2 separate regions of the Homo sapiens genome follow, and region 1 is linked to region 2. A link means that fine-mapping ties the variant in region 2 to the expression of a gene that starts in the linked region. Tissue or cell type: whole blood. Region 2 holds a variant in brackets; the other region holds the start of a gene. All regions are shown on one strand. Distances are between the middles of the regions.

Region 1 (8,173 bases), 60 kb after region 2:
CACTACAGGTTTTTAACAAAACACCTAAAAGGATGTAGAATTGAATTTTAGACTTGATGTGGAGTTCAGATTAGAGAATCCCCAAAATTACTTTCAACTGTAATGTTTCATGCCTTTGGTTAACAGTATGGATAGCTCATCACAATATAGTATAGTAATAAATGTAGAGCTTGTAATGTCATTATTTACCTATATATATATATTTAACTTTGCAGGGGTAGACTTGATCATATCCTTCATGTTCCTGAAATAATATTTTTTTCTGTTAATTTGTATTTAAAATTCCACTTTTCTTACTGACTTTAATATAAAGAATTTAAAAATTAGGTTTCTGTTAACTAAGCAGCCATATCCTACCGTAGAATTATTAAGCTATTCTTCAGAAAGGATGATAAAGAATCCAAGGACAGAAGCAAGAGGATAAAAGAACTTGAGAAAAGGCTTAAGAGTAGAGTGGCCTTCGAGCAAAGCTTCTTCACAAATGTCTTTATCAATAAAACCAACCTAACCAAGCTTCCCTTGAAGCTTTCCTCTAACCATTTGCTCCAAGAATTTCTTTCTTTAAATACACCTTATGACATCTGCCTGTTTAAGACATCATATTTTAACAAGATTCTGCAGACTCTCTTTTTAAAAATCAACTTTATATTTAAATTAAACTGATCCCTATTTAAAGAAAGTTTTGGATCAAAGTTAAACTAATAATAATAAAAATGTATAACTATGTTGCTAAAGCTAAGGCAATTTTCAGGTAAAATATAACCCAAGAGTTTCTACACTGATAACGTGTGTTGTACCCAACAAATGTACTTCAGGCCACTCTAGATTTTCGGGTTCTTAAGTTCAGATCACATGACACCATCCAGCATCCTAATGCACAGGTACATTAAGTACCACTGCACATTCTCCCAGATGATTTTAGAAATGCAAACTATTAAAGTTGGATATTGTAGATATTAGCTATTTCCAGGTCAAATTATTTTCCTTGGGTGTTTGATGTTGATTTTTGACATAAGCCTGGTTTAACAATTGTGATTAGCAGCTCAAGTGTGAGCATAAACAGCCCATCAATGAGTCGATATGACTACTAAGGGCATGCCTAATGACAGGAAAATGATTGTGCTGACAATACAAGGTGGAGAACACGGGCTGCTTCTCAGAAAACATATGTTTATCATTCTAGTTCTCTGATTTTCTGCAGTTAATCATTTTTATTTTCTGTTTAGAAAGCTGAGTCACTCATTTAGAGGCAAAAAATAATGATAAATGTAATTCAGTTTAACAGCCCTGGGTGCCAGAACATTTTAATTTAACCAAGATGTTTTCTGCTTTTACCTATTGCAGCTTGAAAGTTAACTCCTTCTCCAATTTTTGCTGCCTTAAAAAAAATCCCTAAGATTCACTACATTAGTACAAGTGGGAAATAAAGCTATCAGTTTATGCCTAAAATCAGGGGTATATGCTAGGTTTTTGAGCACTGGAAAAATTACTTAGTTCTGATATATCAGTGACAGAATTCTTTAGCTCAAAACCATCCTTAGAGTAAAATGCATTAGAAGTTTAAGAACCTTCCTCTCTGTCACCAATGGAAACCTAAAGTATATTGCCTTCAAGAGAAGAAAGGTTCAACTCGTTTAGAAGCTTGTTATGGAAGTTTCCCAGACACAAGAGTATTTTATAGGCTGTGTGTGTTTACACTTTGGAAGAACACAAAGAAGCTAATTCATTCTTGGAAAGTGTTTCTTATAAACCTTGTTTATTTATTTCAAAACAAACCAGTTATTGAAAACAAGCATAAGCCATTCCAAAGCTACTGGTCACAGAAACCTGAATTATCAACCGGGTGGTAGAGGAGCCAACAAGAAACAGAAAGATGAAATGGAGTAAGTGCACGCTTGTTCAGAGAGCTGCGGCAGTCCTGGATCTGCTGAAGAGACCTAGAGGAGAAGCGCTTCAGAACCTACACATTGAGTCTTAGGCCCAAACATGCATATGCTTAAGAAAGAAGCAATCCTGTCATCCTGTTTCTTCGCAACCAAAGGAAGGGGGAGTGGAGGGACCAACGGTTCCCGCCCTCTTACCCGGTTGTTGATCTAGGGCAAGGATCCTGAAGAACTTGCCTGAGTAACGCGAACTGTGCAAAAGTTCTCAACTACGAGTGGGAGCCCCTCCTCACAGCACTCCCCCCACCCCTATCTGTGCACTTGTGAGCAAACTGAAAAATGCAACAATGACAAAGAAGCTTGCCACTTGCAAGCGCGCACTCACCCTGGGCTGTGGAGCCCAGCTGGCCGCCGCCCGCCTCGGCCACGCGCTGCGGCCCCACGGGCCCGGGAGCGAGGGCTTCGCCCGCGCCGGACATGGGCCGCTCCGCCGAGCCCGCGCCGCGCCGCTGCCGCCTAGCTCGCCGCCCGGCAGGGCGCACGGAGGAAGGGCTGTGAGGTGCTGGGTGCAGGGAACTGACTGCTTCTGGCGGAAAAATATACAAAATTAAAAAAAAAAATGTTTTTAGAGAAGAGCACACCACCCCTGCGGGACGTTCCCTCCCCCTCCACTTCCCTCCCTCAAACTCCACCCCGGGGAAGTTTTGATTTGAAACTTGCGAAGAAAACTGTTACAGCGCAAGTTGACAGCGGCGGGGTCCCAGGGGTCCGAGGTGGACCCAGCGGGGAGGGGCTGGAAAGAGAGATCGGGTTTGGGAGAACCCCGGGGATGGGGATCAAACCCCTCCTCTTCCCCGCCCGGAGACCACTACCTACCTCCGCATCCCCCCGTAGTCGCTCCAAGCCCCTTCCTCCTCCTCCTCCTCCTCTTCCGCCCCGGAAAGTTAGCGAGCCTCCGGCAGCGGCCGCATTTTCGCCCCGGTGGCCTGACGACGGCGGCGGCCGCCCCTGCGCGTCCTCCCGCCTCCCTCCGGCTCAGCCCAGACGCCGCAGTGGCGGCAACTGCGGCAGCGGTGGCGGCTCTGACTCCGCGCACTCCGCCCCCTCTTTCCAGCCAGCTCACTCCAGCCGGCTCCCCTGCGAGGGGGCCTTCCCCCTCTCTGCCTCTCTTTCCCCTCTTCCACTCCTACAATCCTGAAACACTTCTCCCTCTGTTGCTCTTTTTCATCACATCCGGATCGGGAAGGCCTCGAACTCTTGGCTAGCGGCCCCGATGCTGGGAGCGGCGCGACCCGGGCTCGGCCGCGCGATCCCTCGCGCCCTGCGCTGTCTGGGTCAGGAGGCCAGAGCCGGCCTGGGCTGGCTCGGGCTCCCCACCCGGGCGCTGCGCCCTCCCGGGGCTGGGAAAGGGGAGTGAATGGGCAGGTCCCTGGCTGCCCAGACGTTCCCCCCACCCCGCCCAAAAAGTCACCTCATCCCTTCTCCCTACTCCTGCCCCCAGACCGACGGAGGCTTTGGGAATATCCTGACGAAAACCTTTAGGGTGGACAAGGAAAAACGAAAACACTGTTACAGTATCGAACTTTCCTGGTGGGATAGAGAACGTGTGCGTTTGAAACCTTGACCCCTCGGTTGAACGTTTACTCACTTCATCTCTGGCTCCTAAATTACTCTTTGGTCAAACAGTATTCCTGATGTAAAACCAGTTGCAGTTTGCGCGAATCTGCTGGAGGCATCCAGGCAAACAAGGTTGGCACCCTTGCGGATGCCGTGGTACTGGCCCCAGCCTGGCCTATGGCAAGCTAAATGCCTCACTGGATCAGTGGTATCTGAGGGGAGATAAACTTGTGGTCGGAAGTAAAAAGCTGATCAACTTTCCGTTTATAAATGAGACATTCTGATTGTAGCTTAATCTGATGAGCCGAGGATAGCAAGTGTAAAGTAATTTACAGATATATAGTACTTTAGTGGTATACTCAGATAACTTTTGCTCTTTTATTTCATTGTGAATGAAATGCAGAATTCATTTGTAGAAAGCTAGAACGAACTCATTCTTCGATTCTTTTGGACAAGCGAGGAATCACAGTAACGTTATCAAAACTGAAGAAAATGTGCATTGGATTCACTGTCTTTCTATGTGCATCATTAATAATATCCCAGAAATTTCATTTTTTCAAAAAGCTCATTGGAATTTATTCCAATTGATTACAAAGATTTACTTGTTACCTATGAAGAGACAGTGCATTCTAACTTGATTTCAATGATGGTAAAAAAGCCAGCCTTCGGCCGGGAGCGGTGGCTCACGCCTGTAATCCCAGCACTTTGGGAGGCCGAGGCAGGTGGATCACCTGAGGTCAAGAGTTCGAGACCAGCCTGGCCAACATGGTGAAACCCAATCTCTACTAAAAATACAAATATTAGCTGAGCATTGTGGCGGGCGCCAGTAATTCTAGCTACTGGGAGGCTGAAGCAGGAGAATCGCTTGAACACAGGAGGCAAAGGTTGCAGTGAGAAGAAATTGTGCCATTGCACTCCAGCCTGGGCGACAAGAGCAAGACTCCATTTAAAAAAAAAAAAAAAAAAAAAAAAACAGCCTTCAAAGTTGCTGATGACAGTCATTCAGACCATTCTCCCCAAAAAGACAAATGACATTTTGCCCCATTACACATAACTAACATTTTTTTTTCACTTGGAGATTTCAGAAATGGTATGAAATCAAGTGCATTACCTCTCTTGAAAACTTATCTAGGAGCCTGGACTGTTTGGAATTTGTCTGATGGAAGCAGATCAGTTCTGAAGATGACTTCATCACCACTAGAGAACAAACATTTAGGACGTCTCAGAGTTCACTGCAGCATCATCTGCACTCAAAGGAGTTGTTTACCTGCTCTGGAAAATTCTGTTTTATCCCTGTATCATTCCTTGCCCTATTTTTAAAATTCTCTCACAAAGATGTTAAAGTCCAATAATATAAAGAAGTTACAGCTTTCTTCTAGAAAGTCATAATCAATGATAAGTATTTGTTCATTTAATTTCACACAGTCCTTAATATTGCACACGTGGTGGGTGATTCCATAGATATTCCTTAAATTAAATTTTAAAATCTTTAATGGAGAAGACATAAAATTAAAATAACATTAGGAGCAAATGAGAAGCTGTAGGGTAGCATCACCAAGGTTGTCAAATACTGTACCTCATTCAGCTGTGTGACTTTGGACAGTTAGTCACCCACTCTATACCTTGGTTGCCTCATAATATGAGAATGAAATTCTTCATAGAGTTTCTTTTTGAGCACTAAGTAAGGTAGTTTTCCTATAAAATTTGGAAGACTCTCAAGGGAAAAGGTGTTCAAAAGTATCAACTATTATTACTATTATACACGGAAGCATCTTGATGGGTAAAGCTGAGCATGGCATAATGACTGTATCAAAAGGGTCATATCAAAATACCAGTTTGTCATGCCATGCACCTGACGCAAATGATCTCAATGAATTCTTCCATCGGCCCTATAAGTAAATTGCCAGGATTGTACCTTCAGGATTAGAACTCAGGTCTGTCTCTCTTCCAGGCTATCCTGCATCCCTAGGTAACTCAGGTCTTCCTTCTGGAGGACCTAGAAGTGGTCTTAATGCCATTAACCTGGTGTCTGATATGCCAGAAGTTAAGTGTGGGCTCCTGAGTGTCCCTCACGCCTCCCATTTCCCACATCCCTGGCTGCACTTGCTTGTTCTGATTGCTTCATTTGTTTACTGACAAGCACTCCAGTACGTTCATCTCTCATTCTTTCACTCAGTGTCACGAACTGAAAGTTTGTGTTTCCCCAAAATTCATATGCTAAAATCTTAGCCCCTAATGTCATGGTGTTAGTAAGTGGGGCCTTTGGGAGGTAGTTAGGTCATAAGAGTGGAGCCCTCATGAATGGAATTAATGTCCTTACAAAAAGACACAAGAGGCCAGGTGTGGTGGCTCACACTGAGGCAGGGAGATCTTTTGAGGCCAGCACTCTAGGACCAGCCTGGGCAACATAGAAAGACCCCATCTCTACAAAATTGTTTTTAAAAAATTAGCAGGGCATAGTGGCATACTCCTGTAGCCAGCCACTCTAGAGGCTGAAGCGGGAGGATCACTTAATCCCAAGAGTTGGAGGTTACTGTGAGCTATGTGGGCCACTGCACTCCAGCTTCGGCAACAGAGCAAGACCCTGTCTCTTAAAAAAAAAAAAAAAAAAAAAAAGACATACAAGTGTTTCCCAAGGCTCCACCTTTTAATACCATCACCTTGGTGATTAAGATTCAACATATGAATGTTGGGGGACTACAAACATTCAGACTATAGCAGGGGGAGACATATTTTCTAAATTACTGTTTATAAAAGCCACTCTGGTATTATGCGTAAAATTGTTTGGAGGACTGAGAGTGGATCTAGGGAGTCCAATTTGGAGGCCAGGGCTGATGGCTGGCAGAAGGAATGGAGCCAAGTAGATAGGGATAAAGGATGAGGAAGCTAGAGGAATCGAGAGCAACTACCAGCTTTCTGCATCCAGGTTGATGGTGGTGGTATGACCTACAGAGATGAAAACATTCAGGAGAGGCCAGTTTTGGGGAAAGCTGCTGAGCTAATCATGCAAATGATGCAGCATGTGTGAGACAGCTAATTGGAACTGTCCTGCATAGGCTGCTGGACATGGGACTGGATTATAAGCATATACATGGTACTTTGCTGACTAGCAGGTTATAAGAATGTCCAAGGCAAGTGTGCAGAGTAAAAGCAGAAGCCCTGAGACGCAGCTGTGCCTTGGAACTCAATCCACGTGTATCCTTACTGGCCTCTCTCCTTTTCTCCACATCCTTCCCAGTGACATAATACCATTATCAGCTTGGCTTGGAGAACCACTACTGTTTAAGTACTACTACTGTCAGTGTCCCACTTGCTACCCCAGATCCCCCTGGGTTGTCTTTATTAAGCTAGATTTTGCCATGTCTTAAGCTATCTTAATCTGCGTAGGTGGAAATTCTTTAGGGGTATCAGCCTGCCGGTGGAACTCAATGTCCTAGCCCCGGATCAAAGCCCCTTGCCTTTGAAATTCTTGTGTGCCTTACAACCATTCCTGCCTAGTGATGTGTACACTAATGATGATATAATAATATGTGAACACATTGTGAAAGAGGTCTGACATGAGCTAAGCAAATAAAATAAAGAACTAATTAAAAGAGTTTATAAAGCATCCTTATGGACTACTTAATCTTCATCATTCATTCATTAAACATTCATCAAACATTTATTGTGCATCTACTATATGCTAGGCCACATATTAGGCTCTGGAGATAAAGAAATTTGATTTGATGTCTTGAAAAGCAGCTAAATTAGTTTTCACTTGGGCAGAGGCTTATTTGCCTAGTAAAGTCAAAATTAATCCCCATACACAGATATCTAAACCAGAGGTCTACAACTGGGGTGTGTAATTGTAAGGGCATTCCAAGGGATGCATAAGACAATCTACTGAAATGTGGGCAGAAAATATCAGAGTGAGCATTTATATATGTTTTTATGTTATAATTTTTAATTTCTACTTTTGAGTATGTTTTTATACAGTGTATTGCACATTCTTACAAAAGTACTTGGGTATGATTTATAAGTAAACATACATTAAAGGTTCACATTCAAATACTTTGTTTCTTTGTTTAGAAAAAAAACTTTTTAAATGCTTTGAATCCTTTAAGGAGTCATTCCCAGATTATATCAAGGATAGTTTTTCTGGAAAATATATTTACCTAATTTATGTTAGAAGCAGCACTTTGGCAATCCCCAAACCCAATGACCTAGAAACCAGGAAATAACAGCAACATACTAAATACCTAAAATAACCTTCATGATGTTCAGAAACTGCCAACACAAAAGACATAATCCTTCTCAAATCCTACTTGTTCTTTTGTGAATACACACCTCTAATCAAACTTTATTTTCTACTGTTTCAGCTCACATTGTTTTAGAAGAAGAAAACTTAGGGCGCAGGAAGATTGAGGAGAAGGGATTAGCTAAGGGAGCTATTAGGTCAGAAAAACTGACAGCAGGAGAGATGACAGCTGACAGACAAGGAAGATACAGGAAAATAAACATGTTGTAACAACGCCTTTGTGAATTCAGCTTCGTGAAATAGTCAATGTTCCTAATGAGCCTGAGTCATTAAGGAAAGAGTCAGTTAGTTATGTGAGTGCTATATTCTGTTTTTAGGGGGTCGGGTCAATCTTTTTACATTCCAGGAAAAACTCTTTCAAACATGTTCAAAAATT
Region 2 (8,000 bases):
AGAAAAACAAAATCCTTTGGCCTTGAATGCCTCCCTCTATTCTCAACTCCCTAAACTATCTTTGTCTTGTCTTTCAGGTCCCCATCCAGGCATTGACTTTTCCAAGAAGCTAACATTCCTGACCCCTCTATGAACCTTAATACTAATGATCATAACAGCAGCTAACACATATCGAACACTTCATCTGAGCCAGTCTGTATTCTAAGCACTAAGCAGTACCAATTCAAGTCTTCTTCATAACAATCCTATGAAGTAGGTACTAATAATATCACCATTTTAGAGATGAGACGCTGATGCAAAAAGAGGCTAAGTAACCTGCCCAAAGACACATCACTGGTGAGTAGCAAAGCCAATATTTGATCCCAACCAGGCTAGTTTCAGAGTCTGTGCTCTAATTACTATACCACACTGCTTCTATGTGATTAAAAATAAAAATGAGATGATTGTAGTTACTTCCATCTACATAACGCTCTTCACTGTCTTGTTCAGCATTTATGTTCAATGATATACTAGGACTGGATATGTATTTCTCTATGCATACTAAATGCAGAATATCAAGTATGGGGTGTAAATTAATGCAAAAATTCCTAAAAAGTATAAAATTTCTTTAAAAGCATTTTGTTAGAACTTAATTTTTACAAAAATATATAGATGTAACTGGCACATGTAAAACATACTAAGATTTACCATTCCTATAAGAAAAGTGTCTTTGAGTCTAATGAAAACCCTTGGCAATTTGAACATTATATGATACTAAATTATACTATAATTATTTCAAAGGTCAAGAATCTTAAACATTTAGTCTTAAAACTCTCCACCTGGGTGATGCAATCAGAAAATTAAAGTATGTATGAAAATATTTAATTATACAAAACAAGTAGAAATCTACAAATTTAATAACCTTTAAATAAAATGTGCAATTTTTTTGCCACATGGTTTTTTTTTCCTCCATTGCAAAAATGGAACTTTTTAAAAGAACATTTTTTTTGGTGAATATGAGCACACATTTTATTTTCCAGGGCTGGTTTCAAGGAAGGGTAGGATAAAATGATTTGGAATAGAGCATTGTATCACGTGTTAACTCATGAGAAACTTTTTTATGTTGGGCACCACTGTACAATAAAAAAAAAATTGACTTAGATTCAGTCCAGCCTTTTCAGGAATTCACAGTCTAGTAGGAAAAGGAAAACAGAGAGCACAGGTGTGAGAGTTGTTTTTAAAACTGTGGTAAGAAGGGCTTTAAGAGGCAAATGTATACTAAGAAGAAGATCCCTGCTTGGCCCACAGCTGTAACACCATTAACATCCTATATCATGTTGAAATGTCTGATAAATTACCTTTTTTTCAGAAAACTTTAGTCACACAAAATAGCACAGAGGTTAGGAACATGGATTGTGGAACCAGAATGTCTGAGTTTGAGTCTCAATTTTACCATGCACCTGTTGCCTTTGGTTGCTTCCTTTAACTTCTCTGTGTCTCGGTTTCCTCATTTATAATTAGATAATTTCATATAATTCATAGAATTGCAGCGTTGTTGGGAGGACTAAATGAGTTCATGTGAGAGAAGCAAGTAGCACATAGAAGGCACTCTAATTATATGAATCAACATCGCTTAAAAAGTACCTGATGGGGATGCCGAGGTGGGCGGATCACCTGAGGTCAGGAGTTCAAGACCAGCCTGGCCAACGTGGTGAAACCCCATCTCTACTAAAAATACAAAAAAAATTAGCCAGGCGTGGTGGTGGGCGCCTGTAATTCCAGCTACTCAGGAGGCTGAGGCAGGCGAATCGCTTGAATTCGGGTGGCAGAGGTTGCATTGAGCCGAGATCGCACCATCGCACTCCAGCCTGGGCAACAGAGTGAGACACGACCTCAAAAAAAAAAAAAAAAAAAAAAGTACCTGATGAAGTGCAGGCTTCTTTGTTCTCAGTTCTTCAGACACTCACAGTTAAAGACATGTTAAAACATCTTGCCAACCCACAGACTCAATTATGGCTGGTTCAAACCCTACCTCTGTATAAGCAATGGATCATGTCTTAGCAGTGTTTTTGCTATCCTGGTTAGAAAAGACGCCCTTAGAGTTCTTAATCAAACACTAGAAAATTTGTAAATATTTTATTCCATTATCTGAACCAAAAAAAATGTTATTCCAGTTGTTGATAAAATTTATATGTGGCACAAAAATCACAACCACAAGCACCATGTACCCAGACATACAACACATTGTCAAAGTGGGCATGATTAGCTGCTTTGAGAATTTTAGTTAAGATTATTTTGCTACTTGTTTGCTCATTTGCCTTTGGAAGAACAGGCATAGAAGATGATGATTTAACAAAAATGTGAAGCAGAACAGTCATAAAACTGAGAAAAGCCTTGTACTATGGTTTGAATGTCACCTCTACAAAACTCAGATGTTGAAATGTCATGGACAATGTGATGATATTAAGAGGTAAGTCCTTCAAGAGGTGATTTGGCCATGAGGGCTTCTCCCTAATTAATGAGATTAAGGCCATTACAAAAGAGGCTTCATGCAGTTTTTGATCTCTTGCGCTTCTGCTTTCCGCCATGTGAGAACACACGCTCCTCCCTTTCCAAGGATGCAGCAACAAGGCATCATCTTAGAAGCAGAAAATGGTCATCTCCAGACAACCTAACCTGCCAGCACCTTGATCTTGCTCTTCCCAGCCTCCAGAACTGAGAGAAAATAAACTTCTGATCTTTATCAAATACCCAGTCTCAGGTGTTTTATTTATTTATTTATTTTAGAGACAGGGTCTCACTCTGTCACCCAGGCTGGAATATAGTGGCACAATCATAGCTCACTGTAACCTCAAACTCCTGGGCTCAGATGGTCCTCCCACCTCAGCCTCCTGAGTAGTTAAGACTACAGGTGCATGCCACTGTGCCCAGGTAGATTTTTTTTTTTCTTTTTTGTAGAGATGAGATCTTGCTATGTAGCCCAGGCTGGTCTTGAACTCCTGGTCTCAAGCGATCCTCCCCAGTGGCCCTCTCAAACTGCTGGGATTATAGATATGAGCCAACCTGACCAAACTTTAGTCTCAGGTATTTTGTTATAGCAGCACAAATAGACTAAGACACCTAGCCACTAAATCTCCCCATTCTTATTGCTTTATAAAAAAATCATTTCCATCCATTTTTATTTGCACAATAAATCATGCTGCCTATTCAAGGCCTACTGTTCTGACATATGGGCCTCCTGAAATTCAGGTGCTATTTCTGTTCACCACAACTGTTTCTGCCCCTGCCCCATTCTGCACATCAGGTTTTAGGTGTTTCCTCAACAAGAGATCACATATTCTATAGAGCAAGAGATCTATCCTGAGAGTCAAGCAGGTGCTGTAAAAAGAGACTCACAGAATCTTGGAACCGAACTTAATTTTTAAAATTATCTAATCCAAACCCTTCATTCCACAGAAAAAGCAGGCCCATAGAAACTCAAGTACCCCAGCAAGCTGGTGGCAGAATTGAGAATGTTTTTCCTTTTAATTTGCCATCTACCAGTTCAACGGATTTTTTGTTTTGTTTTGGTTTTGGTTTTTATTACAGTACATTGCCAGAGAATAAACATAACTTCAAAACTGAAAGTCAGAAGAAACACAAAATTTTAGGGCACAACCTTAAATACTAACAAATCATGAAGATATCGAACTTTGAGAAAAATATGGACAATCAAATTTTAATCTAGATTCAAGCAATCACAATAAAACAAACCTACAATTGTCTAAATTCTATAGTCTTACAATGAAGATATGGATAAGACTTTGCAAAATGTGTTTATACATTTAAATTTGTATTTTATGCTCCTCATGTCTCCAACCCAATCTGGAACATATTTTGTGATAAAAGCAGATTACACAGATTACAAGGGACTTCCCTTATCCAGAGCTCTGTGGTAGGCCATAAGTGTGAATGTGAGCATGAGAGAAGAGAAAGAAAAAGTAAAAGAGGGAGGGAAGGGGGAGAATAAAGGAGAAGGGAGAGAAAGAGGAAGAGTAAAACTGTATCTCATTCATATACCGGTGATTTTCTTCCT[C/T]CTTCGTATGTTACTTATGAAGCTGCATTCCTACATTACAAATAAATTCAGACATGGTATTAAAGGCAAGCAATAATAAAAAAATTTATAAACATTCCATAAGCTATTTCAAGTTAGGACTGATATGCGAATGTTACCATTCTTTAATACAAAAATAAGTAAATATCAAATGGAAAATAAGAGGTTAGGGACGTAATAAGTGAATTCAAATGTATAAAACAAGTACATTTCAATTGCATTCAATTATTTCACCCGATCACCTAGAAGCGAAGATCCTCTAAAGAAAATTGCATTGCTTTCCCAACTCCTTGGAGAGCCAGTTTAGTTAACAGCCTACCTATGCTTCAGAGATGACCATGCAGCTTACATGTCAAACTCATTTTAAAGTGTCAATCAAGTCCCTTTCAATCTAATTAGTTTGGAAAGTAGTGTCACTGACCTGGAACTATGCAGACCATTTATTATCATATCATTTGATCAACCTAACACTTTATCTCAGTTGAGTTTGAGACACCTGTAGCCAAAATGCAATATCCTTTCTCCCACTCATTACTGGTAATTCTCAATACAATTTCCTATTTACAACTCAATTTGTCTCTATGAATAAGCATGACCAACTTCACAGAGGCATTCCACAAAATTTCTCTTACTTAAGATTTCATAGCAAAATAGAAAGGAAAGGGGAATAAGGAGAAATATATGTATATCAGATACATATAACAGATTCAAGACTTTAGACATCCAATAACTGCTAAAAGGGGAAAGGAGGAAAACCAGAGAACCATGGATACATGGAAAGAAATTTGGATCCTTAAATATGGGAGATTTTTATTTTTGAAATATAATACAATGAATCATGTAAAGGGAGTCTGTTTTAATTGTCACCATGTGCAATTTGATTAATAAAGAACTTTCTCAGGTTCATAGTATTTAACCTGCTTTTAACCCAGCCAAGGGCAGGATGAGATAGAACTGAAGAGGTAATAACTAGTTCTCCAGGGGACAGAGAACACAGCCAAGTGTCTCTAAAGGAGGAGGTGAAGACCAGACCACAGTGAGGCTGAAATGGGATGGGAGTGGAGATGGTTGCAGGTGCTGGCCAACGTGGCGGCTGGAAGATGCTGGTCAGTCAAGCAACAGAAATCACCTGGCCTATTCCCTGGCAAGAGCATGAAAATTACCTAATCTTTCTCTCATTTTAGCTTTGTCTATTTAAGAACCGATTTGCAAGACAAAAATACAAGCAGGTAATCTTATCTCTGAACTATAGAATAACATATTGCATCAGGGAGGGATAAAAATACACACACACACTCATGTATGCCATCAAAATGTTGTATTTATATTTTTAAATGTGGCATTAAAAAAAGAAGTATAGCAGTTATATTTAAAGTAATGACTATTCACTCTAGAAGACGATTATCTAAAAGCAGGATGTCAGCTGCCACTGCTTCCTTTTCTATCTTGTGCTTTCCTTTGGGAAAGTTAATCTGCATTTTACCAAAATTCCTGTTTGTCTGAAGGATAAGCAAGATTCTTCAATTATATATGCTTGATCAAATAATTACCAGGAAATATTATTTTACATCTGGTCAAATAAAATCTACATATATCTCAAACTTACCTTCAGGTGAAGAGCCTGTCTTTTGGGAAAAGACAGCATTTACTTTGCTCTTCTTACTGATATCGCTGTTTACAGACAAGCTGGACTGAATTTTTCTATGCATTTTTTGAGAAACAGGTGCTGAAAGTTTGCGATTATCTGCGGATCCGTGTTTGGCCCCGTGGTGAATTCCATTTCCATTGCTCAGACCTGTGTGGCCGTTCTTTATCTTGCCTATTTCCTCACCACTTGGCACCTGGGCTGAAGTCTGAAGCTGAGGCAAGCGCTGAGGTTGGGCTAAATTAAAAACAGGAAAAAGTCAGCCAGTTAAAGAAAAAGAAATTAATATTTTAAAATAATGAAAATACATTCAGTAACAGAGATTTGGGGTTTTACCCATAATACTAACACTGAAGAGGCAACAAAGAAAAGAAAGAAAAATACTAACATAGACATAGAGAAAGTATAATTTACTAAAATGGAAAATGGGAACGGGGTCATCAAAAGTGGGTTTGTACAAGGATATAAAAAGTAGACCATAGAAATACTGTTTTGGGCGGTTTTAAAGAAAATTTAAGTTAGAAATCTGAAAAGGTAATTTAAGACTCATTCAGAGAATGTTGATTATTTTCTATATGCTGAGCCCTCTTTGTGCATAGACACAACAGTGTTATCTCAATACTACTACTAATAACAAACTACTCAATTGTCTTTTCAAATAAAAGGAAAGAAATGATAAGTTCTGGTATTCAAAGCCAGACAATACAAAGAAAAATACAGTGTTTTTAAAAAAAATCCCATTGTGAATCCTGCAGAAGAAAATCTTTTCTATATTTATTCTTTAATTTGATTTTTAAATAAACAAGTTATGAAAAATTAGGAATACAAGATAATTTCTTTAATAAAACATATCTACCAAAATTAAATGTCAGGACTTTAGAAGTATGTCAAATGCCCACCCTTACGTGACTTATGCAATATTGTGCAGGAGATCATAGTACAAGCAATAAACAAGACAAAGAAATTTAATAGGTCTGACTTCTAGACAGGAATGAACAAAATTTTTGAGATGTGCACAGATTTGGATGTTCTGGGGAACATTCAAATATATAGTATATATATAATCTAAGTTTAAGACTATAAAAACTGAAAGTCTAAAAATGTAGCAAGATTGATACACAACCATATAAAATCAACAATGCTCCTGTAAGCAAAGAGTATAACCGATTAACAAATAAACAAGAAAAATAACTCTTCACAATAGCAAAAAAAGAAAGAACAAGCCAACAAACAAACAAAAGATGCTATACGTATTTTGGAATTAAACTAGAAAAAAATGGGCAGAGGTTTTATGGCAAAAATTACAAAACACTACTGAAAGTCATAGAAAAAACCCAAATAAGTGGAGAGAGTATAAATATGTTAATTATGTTAATTCTCTCCGATTTATTATTTAATGCCATTTCCATAACATTTCCAACAGGCTTGTTTATGGAACTTGACAAGCTGATCCAAAAATGTATATGGAAGAGTAATCAAGAAAGACCAAGGAAATTTTTAGAAGAAAAAGAGGGTTGTAGGATTTGATGTATGAGATATTTCTATCACAGCACCTAAAGCAGTACAGCATTGGACCAGGCATAGACATACAAGCCAATGAAGCTTATGAAATTATTGAGCCCCAAATATGGGACTCATATATTAATATAAGGTAGACATGCACACACCTACATATTTGGGTACAATATAAATAATATGCATAATTATTTTATTATACCAATTAATATAATAATATTAATATAAATATTAATGGTTATATCAATATAATCTAATATAATTATGTTGATTATGTAATTATTATATAATACATATATAATATTTATGTGATATATAAAATATATAAATAAAATATAATTAATTATATAAATGTTAATATTTATACAATTAATATTTGGGTATAGTATACTTAATATAATTAGTACATGTAAATTCCAAATGTATTAAATGCCTATATATAAAAAACAAAACTTTTTATTTAAAGTGTAAATAGAGGAGACTGTTTTAATAGCATAAGCACAAACAAATATGATTTTTTAGACAATGAATCATAAAACAAATGTGAATATTCACCTGTTGTGTTGTGTTGTCCAGCATTCTGGTCACACTCATGGAGTTAGGTAAATTCCTCTACGACATCCCTAGGCTACTCTGGAGCTAGAGGACAAGGATGTGACCTAAGTTCTGCCAGAAGAGAAGTATGGCTTGCATTTGGAAGTGATCAATGCAAGCTGTTAGCCACACCAGGGTGGTGGAGCCTCTCAACACAGGGAGTGAAGAGGTATT

What was found. PIP is the estimated chance that this variant, and not a neighbour inherited with it, causes the effect.
Region 1: it holds the start of MDFIC, and the variant in region 2 is fine-mapped to the expression of MDFIC in whole blood (TOPMed, PIP 0.98).

What each region holds. Positions count from the first base shown.
Region 1 is chr7:114,917,223-114,925,395 of GRCh38, reverse strand. MDFIC (MyoD family inhibitor domain containing) reads right to left here and starts at 3,302. Exons shown (of 5, transcript NM_001166345.3): 1 at 2,760-3,302; 2 at 2,269-2,469. The coding sequence starts at 2,362. RefSeq lists silencers at 2,283-2,422, 2,653-2,832, 2,843-2,892, 3,223-3,362.
Region 2 is chr7:114,977,460-114,985,459 of GRCh38, reverse strand. MDFIC (MyoD family inhibitor domain containing) reads right to left here. Exons shown (of 5, transcript NM_001166345.3): 4 at 5,679-5,954. Among named protein-coding and RNA genes, the nearest start is that of MDFIC, 59 kb to the right of the region's middle. The variant C/T (reference allele first, on the strand shown) is at 4,055.